Regions from separate parts of the Homo sapiens genome. Here region 2 is linked to region 1. The links come from fine-mapping of genetic effects on gene expression. Tissue or cell type: whole blood. Region 1 holds a variant in brackets; the other region holds the start of a gene. All regions are shown on one strand. Distances are from middle to middle.

Region 1 (8,103 bases):
TTCACGGTATCAGAGTTTGAAGTTCCCACCTCTGTCTTAAGTCTCTACCTTTTTTCTCTGTCTAGTTTTTCCACTACTGCCTTAAGTCCCTGCCTTTATCCCCACCTAGCTCCCATCCAGGCCTGTGGGAGCCTCCCTTACTGTTAGTTGGTCTGCGTGCGTGGGCCCGGTGTTGGATATGAATTTCACCTGCATCGCTCATTACTGCCACCTCAGAAATGTTGTAGAGTGGTCACATCTATACTTAATGCACCAGTGTATATCTTAGGACATTTTTCCCCTTGCTCTCTTCCCCTCCTTATCAGCATGTAGCTAGCTACATTCTGACAGGTTAACTGCAGAGTGAGCGATTACTGGGCATCTTAAGGTAGCATTTCAGAGTGTTCCTTTCTGCATAGCTATTTCCCCTCCTCTCTGCTCATACCTAGTATGCATGTTTGGGGTGGTCTCTGGCGTGTGAGATTTTCTAGACCTCCCTTTCCTCAGGGGCTCACCCTCCTGCTCATGTCTGGCTATCTGCCTACTCTAACAATGGGAGCACACCGCTAAACTATACTAACTGAAGCTAGTAGTAGGGGAAGTTTGTGTGGGTGCTTGGATGTTGGCTTCTTTTGCTATCAGTAAATACAATGGCCATGTGTATTTGGTATCTTGGCCAGCCTTTTTAAGAACAAATCCTAGTATCCTTGAAAAGAAGACAATTCATAAAGCTGGTATTTCACCAGCATTACTGTAGCTCAGAGGGAGGTTTTCCCTTCCTGTGTAGGAGAGTACAGGGAGTTCTATTTTGAAAGGTCTCTATACTTCTCCAGGCCCTCGTGCCCAATTTTGTTTGAGAGTCGTGGATTTTGCAAATGTTAAAAACAGTTACTGCTGGCTGGGTGCAGTGACTCACACCTATAATCCCAGCACCTTGGGAGGCTGAGATGGAAGGATCACTTGAGCTTAGGAGTTCAAGACCAGACTGGGCAACATAGCAAGACCTTGTCTCTACTAAAAATAAAAATAAAAAATTAGCCAGGCTCAGTGGTGCACACCTGTAGTCCCAGCTACTCAGGAGGCTGCGGCAGGAGGATTGCTTGAGCCTGGGAAACCAAGGCTGCAGTGAGCCATGATCACACCACTGCACTCCAGCCTGGGCAACAGAGGGAGACCCTGTCTCAAAAAAACAAAACAAAACAAAACAGTTGCTTCTGAGTGATGGGATTTGGGGTGATTTTCTTGTTACATTATTCAAGTCTATATTCTATTATTAATTTTTGTAATAAGTATATATAATTTTACAGAAAACAATAAAGAAATTATCTAAACTAAGGGAGGAAATGGTAAACAGGTGGAATATTACCAAGGGGGAAAATTGTTATTGGATTGCTTGGCACAGAGGTCATTTTTGAACCTTATGAGAGCCATCGCTTCTGGAAGAGTGGGTTGAGGAGTAAATGGAAGGAAAGGATAAGGCACATGACTAAGGCAAATGCTTCTCAACCCCTATTGCATCCCTGAGAATCACACATTAAATCATATTTCTGGGCCCCATCTTGCAGATGTTCAATTCAGTTGGTCTGGGGTGGAGCAGATCACTGGCTTTTCTACAGCCTCAATCAATGTCTGAAGAAATAGCTGCCCTTACCTTCATAACATAAAGACTTACACTTTTCTTTCTCTTAGGATGGAATGAGATGGAAACCTTAGTCCTTTCAAGATAACCCTGAAAAAGTTAATTTTATGTTCTATAGGCTGAGGGTTTGGCTTCTTGCCCTCGTTTCCAGCTTCCACCAATATCTTCCCAGGCTGGCTTCTTGCCTAGATACATCTCAAATTGGGATGCAGTTTCCCAATCTAGTTCTCACCCTTCTGACACTGAACAGGTTTATGAATCTTTTTTTTTTTAATTTTAAAAATTAAAAAATGTTTAAAGATGCCAACAAGGTCAACTAGGCCAGCTCCTCTCCATGTCCCTGATCTTGTTTGAAAAATTTATTAGTTTCTTTGTCCTGCTCAAACATGAGTTCCCTGATGGCTAAATTCCATAAGATAACTATCATACCATTATTAGAAATCTTCATAAATACCGGGTGTAAATGTCCCTGATTTTTTGAAAATGTATTTGGGTCCCCTTTGCTTCCTTCCAGCCCCTTTCCTGACGTATCTCTTGATTTTGCTCTGGAGGTGAGCGCTGGCCACAAAGTCCTGCACTCTCTTTATTTAACACACTAGGCCCACAGGATTCTGGGTGCCTCCTTCAGTGAAGAGGCTTCAGCACTCTGGCCTTCTGTTGGAAATCCTGTAAGGGTAAGGAACAAGAGATGGTAAACCGTTTCAGGAGATAAAACACCAAATGGTGTGTCTGATCTCAGGTTCCCTCTGTTTTACCAAAAAACGAGTCAACCGGGTTATCCCCTGATCCAAGAGACCTGAAGCATGAGTCTCAGCAGCTCTTAGGTACACTGAGAAACCTGCACAAACCAGTGGCTCCTCCCAGACACTGAGAAATTAAACCTCAGGCTTGCGTCAAGCCCTCAACATTTTAGGAAAATGACCAACAAGTTTTCTCCTCTATTTATATGTGGAAATGTTCATTTCACTTGCAAAAGAGAAGACCAAAATGTCATTTTTATGATTATGATGTTATAACAGAAATGTAGGAGTGTGAAATTTATAATGTTATAGACCAATTTAGTATGAAATGCAAATATCACGGCAGAGTGGGCTGGCTACTCAAATCTCAGCTGAAATGCTCTGAAAGAGTCCCCATGGCTAGCTAGTTCAGCTGACTAAAGGGCCCCAGTGTCCTGGAGAAGAAAATAAAGAGGGGATATAGTTGGGGGAATGAAGGCAGTTTAAACTTTGTGAAGCTTCCTTAGCTCTTCTCAGGAGACTGTTCATGGATTTGAATATTTATAGTAGAGAATTCTTCCTCTGTAGTATGTGTACTTGATAATTAATTTAATAAATATAATTTTGGATAATACAGACCTTTCCTTATGGTGACTGTGATAGCTTGAAGACATTTAATAACCTGCAAATCTTACTGCTTCAATCCTCTGCTCAAAGTCCTCCAAAGGACCCCAGTGCCAATCATTCATCACCCATTGGTTTGATCATCTTATTCCTTGACTTTCTAGCAATTATGTATTGGATAACAGGCCCTGTGCTAGAGGTTGGAGATATGGCAGTAAAGAAAATAGGCATGGGAATCCCAGAATTCTTAGAGCTCATATCTTGTATGAGGACAGAAATTAAGCTAGTAATTTTAACATTGTAACGCTATGCAGATCTGTATTTTTCCTTGATATCTCATACACAATTATGTTTCCAATATCTAATTATGTTCCCCTGCAGCCATTCCACCAATGTAGTCCCAGGAAATGGGAATGATGAATGTCTCTTTAGAAAGAAACATGATAAAAGGGAAACCCTCTCCAGAAAGGAAGACAAAGTAAAAGGAAGCACATTTTATTAAAGGCTAAAGTATAAAGGTGGAAGGATGCAATAAAAATCTTCAGGTAGGGAGGATGGTGACCTGACACCCTAAGAACTTGGTGGCAGACTATAAGCCTAGAAGCTCCATACTTGATACGGGGGTGTGTATTACTTCCTGTACCTATTGAAACAAATTACCACAAACTTAGTGGCTTGGAAAAACACAAACTTATTCCCTTACAGCCTTGCATTCTTAGGTTATTCTTCAGTTACACAGAGACTTCAGAGGAGAACATCTATTCCAAGTTGTATAAAAATTAATACTTTGGTAGTCTAAAATGTGTTTTAAAAAATTGGTAGATGCTATGGTTTGAATGGTTCCCCTCCAAAATTCATGTGTTGCAACTTAATCCCCGTTATGGTGGTATTAAGAGTTTCGGACCCTTTGGGAAGTGATTAAGTCATGAAGGCTCTCCCTCATGAACGGATTAATGCCCTTACAGAAGAGCCTTCAGAGAGAGTTTGTCTCTTTTTATTCATCTGCCTTCACCTATGTGAGGACACAGCATTTGTCCCTTCTGGAGCACACAGCAAGATGCCATCTTGGATACAGAAAGAACAGCAAACAACAAACACCGCCAAACAGACACCAAACCTGCCAGCACCTTGATTTTAGATCTCCCAGCCTTCAGAACTGTAAGAAATACATCTCTCTTATTTATAAATTACCCAGTCTGTGGCATCTTGTTACAGGAAC[G/A]CAAGCAGACTAAGATAGTAGAGGACACATTTAAGTTTGTGTGCTGCTGTGTATTCACATTTTTAAAAGCTAAAACACATTTCAAAATTAAATTAAAACCAAACACTTGTGAAACAGCTGAAATATTTTAGCTAAATTTTACAGAAGACCACATTAGAAAAAACTGGTTGACTCAATATAAATGATCCTTAGTGTAATTCAATTTCTAGTATTCTCGTATGTCTACAAAATTGGTCTTAGTCCTTTCACTATCTTGAAACTAAGAAAACATATGTCTTACAAGGAGGATATTTGCACTTAATAATCACTGAAAAGTTGGGCAGCATTCATGTGGTCTCATCATATTTGTCTTCTTTGCCACCTGTTAAAGATCTGGAGCACAAAAGCAGGACAGTGGAAATCGTCAGATAAGTTTATGTTAAGAAATAGCTGTGTATAATACTGTCCTGGTCATGGAAAATTAAAGGTCAGAAAACAGACACTTTCAGACTATGCATGTGAACTATGTGTTAACAGTGCTGTCTCCCTGCACCTACCATACCATCTTATGGTACCGTTTGAGGCTGAACATAATTCAAATTGGAATAGGATAAGGATTTCCTTCACTCCTTACAAGATAAAAAGGTCATAGTACATTTAAAAATATTTTCCCCAGATATATTATGCAAATTCTGAAATGGTAGAATAAGCAATCATTTCCTACTCCCTGAAGCATGAACTCCTAGTTGAGAACATCACTAACAAGTTGAAAGCATACCTGCCCACGCATGTCTTATGCACTTTCACTTGTGCACATACAAAACCATATAACTCCTTGTACAAGAAAACTTAATTACTAGGCAAGACGCCTCCACCAGCTCTAGCAGCAAGCCTATTTATGGAAACTCTTCCTTAGAGAATATCTTATATCAAAATGATATTGCCAGCCAGCCATGCAGGGAGATTACCTACAGAAGCTACTCTGGCACTGACTCGAGCACAGAGGAAATAGCTGTCAAACCCACTAGCTGCTGGCTTCTTGGAGGCAGTGTTTAAAAACTATCTCAAAGTCTATGCTAAAAAATATAGAGCAGAAATTTCAGCAAGTAGATGGAGAGTTTTACTGGTCTAAGAAAAGTTTTAATGATACCTAAAAATTACAAATGGGCTAGAACAGGAAAGGCAACATTATACATCAATTAAAAAGTTAAACTGGAGTTCAGGTTGTATTCCAGAAACCGCTATTCACTTTATTTGATATTCTTTATAAGGGAAGCTTGAGGTTATTAAGTCACTGCCCTCCCAATGCAGTATTACATTTTCTGTAATCTGTAGGAAATAATATCAGGAAACTGATCAAATTCCAAGTCCCTAAATATTACCAGAACAACTTATTGATAAGAAAAAGATTATTTTATTTCTTACAGTGATAAGGGAGACATAATATGGTAGTTTCTTGGAGGAGAATGAACAAGATTTGATTTATTCAGATTTTGAAGTCTAGTTTAAGGCAGGTCTGTCAGAGCAGGGGTGAGTGCAATAGAGAGGGCTTAATTAGGATAGGGTAAGGGCTATGATAGAATATTAGGATTGGTGAAAAAAGAAAAGAGGTCGTTTTGAAGCCAGGAGCACAAAGTCTTGGGATGTGAAGACAATTGAAATTAAAGTCATGTTAACGTAGATAGTAAGCTGTGTAGGAGTAAATGGTTTCAGTTCTCAATATTAAGAGTCCGGAGAAGAGAGGATGGATTTTAATAAGTTATCGGGCCCTTTCATGAAATCCATGTGGATAAGATGGCGCAGTGTAACTTGCTTCCTTTCACGCTTATGACTAAACCTGGTGGTCCTGGTTGAAGCATCAGCCAAGTATATCACTGTCAGGATTTAAGTTCTAAGGACTGAACTGGGATGGGGCAGCAAGGAGCAGGAAGATCCAAAGTGAATTTAAACAGAATTCTTAAGCAAAGCTGAGAGTCAAGCTGAAAAATGAGGATCAATTGGGAATTCTGGAGGCAAGAGCAATGCTACAAATAAGAAAAGAGATAGGTCAGAAACAGGTCAGAAACAAAACGCAACCTAGATGAACACAGTTTGCAGCTAAATCAGGAAGGGCTTAGATGGATGTTTTCTGGGATTGGAGTTCAAGTATTTGAGGCTTTTCTGATGCCTGGTGCTTGGATAAGTCAGACTAGCTTAAAGATATAGGTTTGGAGCAGGGATCCATCCCTCATCCTACCCCATCCCCAAACCCTACCACTGCTATGTAGGCCTCTCCCAATCAAACAGTAGGTTGGGTGTGGAGCTTTCTCAAGTTTGTTTTGCATAAGACTTGGCATGTTTGAGAAGCTCTTCCAAACATGGAAGAAGAGCTACTTCCCATGAATTCATAAATGCCTCTCTAAGTCAGACCCTTACCTCTGCCTCAGGGATTGGAGTAGTCTATATCGCTGTTGGAAGTCTAGTACTTCCACTTCATGCTCTTGCTCTCTACCTCTAGTGACAGGATGAGTCACTGGACTGGAAGGCAGATTGGATCTGTATTTTTAGCCATATGGCATTCAAATATCTCTGTGACCTTGAATCAGTCCAAGAAATAATCCTCAACTTTTCATAAGCGGGGTATGGGATTTGGTGGGGTGAGGGAGGCAAACTGCTAGAGAATAGAGGAGCTGTGGATGGAGTGAACTAATGAATTGTTGAGAGATGTGTGTCTACCAGAAAACAAACCACGAGTGGTTATTATTATACGAAATTGCTGAGAAATCCTCCCCTGTCCCTCCTCTACCCTACTTACCCCAAAATCACTGAGTCTTGCTCTCATTTTTCAGGCCTCTGACATGTGACCATCCACTGATTTGCTAACTGCCTCTGTGATCTCCACTAATAATTATCCACTGAGCACTTCAGTGAGTTTTGTAACCCAGCTCTCGTGCAAGTTGGAGGACTTCATTTACTCCCTCAGTTTCATCATTCCTCCTTCTTCAGGAAAGAATCTCACATTCCAGAGCTAGCTCATGTACCCTGCTTCCTGTCCCATTATGGGTGGAGATTTGGACATTTTTGCCTAGAACCCATGATTTCAGGAGGTTCTTCTCTCCCATGTGGGGACAATGAATGTAATTTCAGCCCTTCTATTCTTACTGTGCCTGGGAAATGTCACATTAATAATAGAAATAATACAGAGTTTTGCAGATAACTGCTGTACTTACCAACCTATTGATTGCAAGAGTGGAATTCACTGGCACATGCATTGTTGCTGCTTTCTCCCCCTACAGAAAATGATGGGGTTGAACTAACACATTTCCCAACTACTTCCTACAATGCTTTTTTTTTTTTCCCTAACAGCCTTACTGAGATATAATCCACATACCATAACTTCAGCCATTTAAAGTGTACAATTCAAGGGGTTTTGCTCTATTATTCATTATTTTAAGTTGTGGTGATGATAGATAACATAAAATGTGCCATTTTAACCATTTTTAAATGTATAATTCGGTAATGTTAGTTACATTCACAATGTTGTACAACCGTCACATTATCTATTTCCAAGACTTTTTCACCAACCCAAACAAAAACTCTGTTTCCTTTAAGCAATAATTCCCCGCTCTCCTTGCCTCCAAACCATTAGGTTATCTATTCTACTTTCTGTCTCTATGAATTTGCCTATTACAGGTCCCTCATTCAAATGAAATCATATAATATTTGTCCTTTTTGTTTGACTTATTTCACTTAGTGTAATATTTTCAAGGTTCAGAACTTCATTTTTTATGATTGGATATTTTATTATATCTATATACCACATGTTGTTTACTTATTCATCTGTTAATGGACCTTGGGGTGTTTCTATCTTCTGGTTATTGTTGAATTATGCTGTTATAAACATTTATGCACAAATATCTGTTTGAATTCCTGTTTTCGGTTAGTTTGGGTATTTACCTAGGAGT
Region 2 (8,089 bases), 290 kb before region 1:
TGCCCTCTGGTGATCCGCCCACCTCAGTCCCCCAAAGTGCTGGGATTACAGGCATGAGCCTGGCCTGTTTTCAATCTTTTTTTTTTTTTTTTTTTTTTTTTTGAGACAGTCTTGCTCTGTCGCCCAGGCTGGAGTGCAGTGGCGCGATCTCGGCTCACTGCAACCTCAGCCTCCTGGGTTCAAGGGATTCTACTGCCTCGGCCTCCCGAGTAGCTGGGATTACAGGTGTGCACCACGACGCCTGGCTAATTTTTGTATTTTTAGTAGAGACGGGGTTTCACCATGTTGGCCAGGATGGTCTCAATCTCTTGACCTCGTGATCCGCCCACCTTGGCCTCCCAAAGAGCTAGGATTACAGGCATGAGCCACTGTACCCAGCCTGTTTTCAATCTTTATAAGTTTGTAATCCTAGCACTTTGGAAGGCCGAGGCCAGTGGATTGCCTGAGCTCAGGAGTTCGAGACCAGCCTGGGCAACATGGTGAAACCCCGTCTCTACTAAAATACAAAAAAGTTAGCTGGGCGTGGTGGTGTGCACCTGTAATCCCAGTTACTCGGGAGGCTGAGGTAGGAGAATTGCTTGAACCCAGGAGGCGGAGGTTGCAGTGAGCCGAGATTGCGCCACTGCACTCCAGCCCGGGCAACAGAGCGAGACTCCGTCTCAAAAAAAAAAAAGTTTGTTGGTGCACTCTTTTGCCCCTTTTCATTGCTAAATCATTGGCTTTGACCAACTGATGGACATTTTGATTGTTTTCAGTTTTTAGCTATTATGAACATTTTTAGCTACTATGAGTATTTGCAACAAATCTCAGTGTGGACGTATGTTTTCATTTCTCTTGGGAGTATTCTTTGGAGTGGAATTGCTGAGTCTTATGGTAAATTTGTGATTGACTTTTTTTTCTTTTTTTTTTTTTGAGATGGAGTCTTGCTCTGTCACCCAGGCTGGAGTGCAGTGGCGGGGTCTTGGCTCACTGCAAGCTCCACTTCCTGGGTTCACGCCATTCTCCTGCCTCAGCCTCTTGAGTAGCTGGGACTACAGGTGCCCGCCACCACGCCTGGCTAATTTTTTGTATTTTTAGTAGAGACGGGGTTTCACTGTGTTAGCCAGGATGGTCTCGATCTACTGACATCGTGATTCACCTGCCTTGGCCTCCCAAAGTGCTGGGATTACAGGAATAAGCCACTGCGCCCGGCCTATGATTAACTTTTTAAGAAACTGCCAAACTTTTCTGAAGTGAGTGTACTATTTTATATTCCCACCAGCAGTGTATGAGGGTTCCTCATACACATCCTCACCAACACTTGGTATAATCTGTTTTTATTGTAGTCATTTTATGTATGTATGTGTATAGTGTTTTTATTTTTATTTATTTATTTTTGAGACAGAGTCTCACTCTGTCACCCAGGCTGGAGTGCAGTGGCATGGTCTCAGCTCACTGCAACCTCCGTTTCCCAGGTTCAAGTGATTGTCATGCCTCAGCCTCCTGAGTAGCTGGGATTACAGGTGTCTGCCACCATGCCCAGCTAATTTTTGTATTTGCAGTAGAGACAGGGTTTTGCCCTGTTGGCTTGGCTGGTCTCAAACTCCTGGCCTCAAGTGATCCACCTGCCTCAGCCTCCCAAAGTGCTGGGATTAAAGGTGTGAGCCACCACGCCCGGCTGTGTGAAGCGTTTTTTTATTTTTTGAGACGAAGTCTCGCTGTGTCACCTAGGCTAGAGTTCAGTGGCAGGATCTCGGCTCACTGCAACCTCCACCTTCCGGGTTCAAGCCATTCTCCCACCTCAGCTTCCCAGGTAGCTGGGATTACAGGCATGCACCACCATGCCTGCCTAATTTTTGTATTTTTAGTAGAGACGAGGTTTCACCAAGTTGGCCATGCTGGTCTTGAACTCCTGACCTCAAGTGATCCATCCACCTCAGCCTCCCAAAGTGCTGGGATTACAGGCATAACATGGCCCGGCCCTGGCCATGTTTTTAACTGTGTTTCTCTAATAGCTAATAATGCCGAGCATCTTTTTATGTGTTTCTTAGCCATTAGTAGATCTTTTTTGGTAAAATGTCTTTTTTTTTTTTTTTGGTCCATCTTAAAATTGTTTTTTGTTTTGTTTTGAGACAGGGTCTCACTTTGTTGCCCACGCTGGAGTGCAGTGGCTCAATCATGGCTCACTGCAGCTTCGACATCCCTGAGCTCAGGTGATCCTCCCACCTAAGTTTCCCGAGTAGATGGGACTACAGGTGTGTGCCACCATGCCCAGCTAATTTTTGTATTTTTTTTGTAGAGGTGGGGTTTTGCTATGTTGCCCAGGCAGGTCTTAAACTTCTGAGGCTCAAATGATCCTCCCACCTCAGCCTCCCAAAGTGCTGGGATAACAGGCATGAACCACCACACCCAGCTAAGATTGTTTTTAAAAATCTTTTTCTTGAGTTTTGGGAGTTTTTATGTGTTAGGGATACCAGTCCCTTATGAGGTATATAATTAGCAAGTAGTTTCTCCCACTCTGTGACTGTGACCTTTCTTTTTTTGAGGCAGGGTCTCACTCTGTTACTCAGGCTGGAGGGCAGTGGTGTGATCATGGCTCACTGCAACCTGGAACTCCTAGGCTCAAGGGCTCCTCCCACCTCAGCCTCCCAAGTAGCTGGGTCTACAGGTGTGTTATTGTGCCAGGGTTAATGTTTTAAATTTTTTGTAGAGATAATGTCTCTACAAAAGACACCATCTTTGTTGCCTAGGCTGGTCTTGAACTCCTGGCTTCAGGGAATCCTCCAGCCTCAGCCTCCCAAAGTGCTGGGATTACAGCATGAGCCACATCCAGCCTATGATTTTTCTTCTTTTCTTTTCTTTTCTTTTCTTTTTTTTTTGAGATGGAGTCTCGCTGTTGCGCAGGCTGGAGTGCAGTGGGGCGATCTCGGCTCACTGCAGGCTCTGGCCCGCGGGGTTCACGCCTTTCTCCTGCCTCAGCCTCCCGAGTAGCTGGGACTACAGGCGCCCGCCACATCGCCCGGCTAATTTTTTGTATTTTTAGTAGAGACGGGGTTTCACCGTGTTAGCCATGATGGTCTCGATCTCCTGACCTCGTGATCCGCCCGCCTCGGTCTCCCAAAGTGCTGGGATCACAGGCGTGAGCCACGGCGCCCGGCCCCAGCGTATGACTTCTTAATGATGTCTTTGTAGTACAAGAGTTTTTAATTTTAATAAAGTTAACTTTTTTTTAAATTGTACAAGCTTTTAGTGCTGTGTCTAACAACTTGTTGCCAAACCCAAGGTCATAAAGCTGTTCTCTTACGTTTTCTTTTTTTTTTTTTTTTGAGACGGAGTCTCACTCTGTCACCCAGGCTGGAGTGCAATGGCACGATGTCGGCTCACTGCAACCTCCGCCACCCGGGTTCAAGCGATTCTTCCGCCTCAGCCTCCGGGGTAGCTGGGATTACAGGCGCACGACACCACGCCCTGCTAATTTTTGTATTTTTGTAGAGAAGGTTTCACCATGTTAGTTAGGCTGCTTTACGTTTTCTTTTAGAAGTTTTATATTTTTGGCTCTTATATTTAGTTTGTGATCCATTGAGTTGATTTTATGTACGTATGTATGGTCGCGTTCTTTTCTTTCCTGTCTTTTTTTTTTTTTTTTTTTGCATATGGATATTCAATTCTCCTAGCTCCATTTAATTTGAAATGATTGGGCAGGTACTTTTGAGCAGTGCAAGTACAGAGCGGCACTGCCAGCAGACTACACGCGGTAGAAAGCCGACCTTGGTGAGCGTGTTGGTGCTCGACAGTGAGCAGAGAAAGGATGGACGATTACGGAGCGCCCTCGTCTCCAGTTACCGCTTTCTGGAAACACCATCCGCCGGGGCGGAGCTGTTCCGCCCCGGTGCGGTACTACGACTCCCAGCATGCACCTCGCAGTCGGCCCTCGGTGGAAGCGGGAACCCAGGAGGACCTGGGGGTGTGGCAGCGAGGAAGGGCCGAGCCACGGACTGTGGGGCCGAAACTCGCTCCCGCCCACCCTTTCTCGAGGCTGTGGCCTCCGCGAGAGCCGAGCGGGCCGCACCGCCGGCCGTGCGACTGCCCCAGTCAGACACGACCCCGGCTTCTAGCCCGCCTAAGCCTGTTTGGGGTTGCTGACTCGTTTCCTCCCCGAGTTTCCCGCGGGAACTAACTCTTCAAGAGGACCAACCGCAGCCCAGAGCTTCGCAGACCCGGCCAACCAGAGGCGAGGTTGAGAGCCCGGCGGGCCGCGGGGAGAGAGCGTCCCATCTGTCCTGGAAAGCCTGGGCGGGTGGATTGGGACCCCGAGAGAAGCAGGGGAGCTCGGCGGGGTGCAGAAGTGCCCAGGCCCCTCCCCGCTGGGGTTGGGAGCTTGGGCAGGCCAGCTTCACCCTTCCTAAGTCCGCTTCTGGTCTCCGGGCCCAGCCTCGGCCACCATGTCCCGCCAGACCACCTCTGTGGGCTCCAGCTGCCTGGACCTGTGGAGGGAAAAGAATGACCGGCTCGTTCGACAGGCCAAGGTAACACGGTTGCTGGCACCCTCGGTTTGCAGCCTCAAGATCCCTGAAAGCGGGTTTGCAGTGGATTTACCCCAACCGATGGGGAGGGACTGAGCTTGACCAAAGAGCCAGAAATGACTGGAGAATGCATCCCTTGCCACTGCTGCAAGGGGAGAAAAAAGGATTGATCCTCAGTGACAACCCCTCCCTCATGTGGCAGGTGGCTCAGAACTCCGGTCTGACTCTGAGGCGACAGCAGTTGGCTCAGGATGCACTGGAAGGGCTCAGAGGGCTCCTCCATAGTCTGCAAGGTAGGCGGGTCCTCCCCAGGATGGTCAGTTCCCCTCTTCCATAGCCAGAGAAACATCCGCTCCTGCGTTTTTGGGATCGATATAATTACTCGGGGCAGGGAGTCCTGTTTAAGGCACAGAGGAGACTGGAGTGGAATCATCTTTGTACAGGCAAATCCCTCTCTTCCTTACACACTCACAGAGTGGCATTTGAAAAATGGTTTCCAAGATGGTCTGATCTGGATAACTTTTTTGCCCTTTCCAGACTCTCTGTCCAAAGGTTGGGTTCTTTTTTTAAATCCTTAGCTAATTGGCTGGAGGGTGGGTTCTTTATTGTAGCTGTTTTGGTTGGAGTGGGGTGATCTCTGAGTTGGGATTTTATTTGGAGGATCTTCCATGGGGGAGCAGTCTGTAAGACCAACATTGTTGCTCCAGGGCTCCCTGCAGCTGTTCCTGTTCTTCCCTTGGAGCTGACTGTCACCTGCAACTTCATTATCCTGAGGGCAAGCTTGGCCCAGGGTTTCACAGAGGATCAGGCCCAGGATATCCAGCGGAGCCTAGAGAGAGGTGAGGGCCAGAGATTGTCCCTGATTCCCCTGCCATCTTCAGTCTGGGTTTAAGTTATTGCAGGGAGATGGGAGGATAAACAACATCTGTCACCTCCATGGAGAGAGGTGCCCTTCTCTGTGCTCTTCAGACCAGGTTGAGGTATTATTATTGTGACCTTTGGGGTCCTGCAGGAGAGGAAAGCCAGAGTGTGTGGGGAGATGGAGGATGAGGTGCTACTTCAGCTGTGTGTGTGTCTATGTGTGTGTGTATACTCTACAGTGCTGGAGACACAGGAGCAGCAGGGGCCCAGGTTGGAACAGGGGCTCAGGGAGCTGTGGGACTCTGTCCTTCGTGCTTCCTGCCTTCTGCCGGAGCTGCTGTCTGCCCTGCACCGCCTGGTTGGCCTGCAGGCTGCCCTCTGGTTGAGTGCTGACCGTCTTGGGGACCTGGCCTTGTTACTAGAGACCCTGAATGGCAGCCAGGTAATAGGGAAAGTGACCTGAAGCTGAGGGTCTCCTCCTTCCTTCCTCCTCCTTTCTCTCCAGCTGCAGTAGCATCATCATGTACTGGACAGGCGGCTGGGTTGGTGGTCGGAAAACCTGGATTCTCTCTGGGACTCTTGGGTGACCTTGCCCTGGTTGGTCTCTCATTGTGGGGATTCTCTTAGGAGTGTTTTTTAAAAATTGGACAGGCATGGTGGCTCATACCTGTAATCTCAGCACTTTGGGAGGCTGAGGTAGGAGGATCACTTGAACCCAAGAGGTGGAGGCAACAGTGAGTTGTGAGCTATGATCACGCCACTGCACTCCAGCCCTGCAGCCTGGGTGACAGAGGGAGACCCTGTCTCAAAAAAAAAAAAAATTTTTTTTTGGATAGGGATAGGGCTCTTGTGATCTTGCTCAAGTCAGCTCTCAGCCTTAGTCTCCTTATTAGTAACTCAAATATGGTCCTTGCCCTGAGTGAGGAGGCACGCTGGAATAGATCATCACTGCCCCAGGTTTTTCTTCCTTTTTTTTAATTCTTGCCTCATAGCTATCTATCTCTTAGAATTGGGGGAAACTACAGGCATTATGCATAGCTTCTTGCTTTGTAAGGGTAGCTGAGGCCTGTGTCCTCAAGGATCAAGAGGACCCTTGAGCTCAAGGTCTAGCCAGGATAGATGGAGATAGGAGAAGACGAGGAGGTTGTAGGCTTGGAGCTTCTGGTTGTCCTTCTTTCCCCAGAGTGGAGCCTCTAAGGATCTGCTGTTACTTCTGAAAACTTGGAGTCCCCCAGCTGAGGAATTAGATGCTCCATTGACCCTGCAGGATGCCCAGGGATTGAAGGATGTCCTCCTGACAGCATTTGCCTACCGCCAAGGTCAGCTAGCAACCTGACTCATCTCTTCTACCTTTAAGTGGTCCTCCAGACTCATGCCCTCTCTCTTGTCCCATTCAGTTCCATGGGCTTCTTAGACCCTTGTTCCCCATCATGACCCCTGCTCTATAGCCCTCTCCAAGCTCACACCCTGACTGTCCTCAGGTCTCCAGGAGCTGATCACAGGGAACCCAGACAAGGCACTAAGCAGCCTTCATGAAGCGGCCTCAGGCCTGTGTCCACGGCCTGTGTTGGTCCAGGTGTACACAGCACTGGGGTCCTGTCACCGTAAGATGGTAAAGACAGTCCTAGGGTGGATTGGGGAAACCACAAGCATTATGTATAGCTTTTTGCTTTGTAAGGGTAGCTGAGGCCCGTGTCCTCCTATCCCTTTAGGGAAATCCACAGAGAGCACTGTTGTACTTGGTTGCAGCCCTGAAAGAGGGATCAGCCTGGGGTCCTCCACTTCTGGAGGCCTCTAGGCTCTATCAGCAACTGGGGGACACAACAGCAGAGCTGGAGAGTCTGGAGCTGCTAGTTGAGGTAGGGAACTGCCAGGTGAAGATGTGGGGTGGAGGATTCCTGAGGTGCTTGTGATGGGGTGACTTGACTAGTCAAGATCCAAGTATAAGGAAGTATGGCTCCCAAAGATTATAGATACAATTTTTTTCTTTCTCTTTTAGGCCTTGAATGTCCCATGCAGTTCCAAAGCCCCGCAGTTTCTCATTGAGGTAGAATTACTACTGCCACCACCTGACCTAGCCTCACCCCTTCATTGTGGCACTCAGAGCCAGACCAAGCACATACTAGCAAGCAGGTGCCTACAGACGGGGAGGTGAGGTTCCCCTTGCTCACCTGAGCTTCTCTTCCCACTTCTGATGCCTCCCCTGGGGTGTGACTCTGCTTTTGTTCTTGTGACTTGGGGGATGAATGAGGCAGTGGCAGGACATAGGTCGCCACTCCTCAGCCTCTTACCTTGCTTCTAGACCTGAACTGAGGACTCTTCTCTAAGACATTAACCTTCTCTATCTTTGACACTCTGAAGTCTCTTCCCCAGTCCATTCTGTAACTGGGGTAGATCCATACTGAGCCAAAATTGGAGCCCTAAGACCTTCCCTCCCTTTCTCCTCCTCAGGGCCCATGAACATCCATCTGTTAGCTAAGAGAGAACATTCTCAGGACCCTTGCAGGTTCCCTGCTAGGGCCTAGGGTGAGGCTTATGGGCTTTTACTCCTCAGGGCAGGAGACGCTGCAGAGCATTACTTGGACCTGCTGGCCCTGTTGCTGGATAGCTCGGAGCCAAGGGTGGGTGTGTCTTCAAGCTTCTCTGCAATGGGGTAGACGGGTTGGTGTCCCCTTTGAAATACAGCAAGACTGCAATTTTTTGTTTTTTCCTCTATTCTGTCTGTC

What was found. PIP is the estimated chance that this variant, and not a neighbour inherited with it, causes the effect.
Region 2: it holds the start of FANCG, and the variant in region 1 is fine-mapped to the expression of FANCG in whole blood (TOPMed, PIP above 0.99).

The regions. Positions count from the first base shown.
Region 1 is chr9:34,781,115-34,789,217 of GRCh38, reverse strand. It overlaps a transcript of PHF24 not described here. Among named protein-coding and RNA genes, the nearest start is that of SPATA31F1, 56 kb to the right of the region's middle. The variant G/A (reference allele first, on the strand shown) is at 4,181.
Region 2 is chr9:35,075,857-35,083,945 of GRCh38, reverse strand. FANCG (FA complementation group G) reads left to right here and starts at 4,004. Exons shown (of 14, transcript NM_004629.2): 1 at 4,004-4,505; 2 at 4,705-4,795; 3 at 5,210-5,341; 4 at 5,603-5,805; 5 at 6,547-6,682; 6 at 6,845-6,975; 7 at 7,076-7,222; 8 at 7,363-7,514; 9 at 7,918-7,984. The coding sequence starts at 4,422. RefSeq lists enhancers at 2,552-3,158, 4,375-4,982 and a silencer at 4,134-4,299.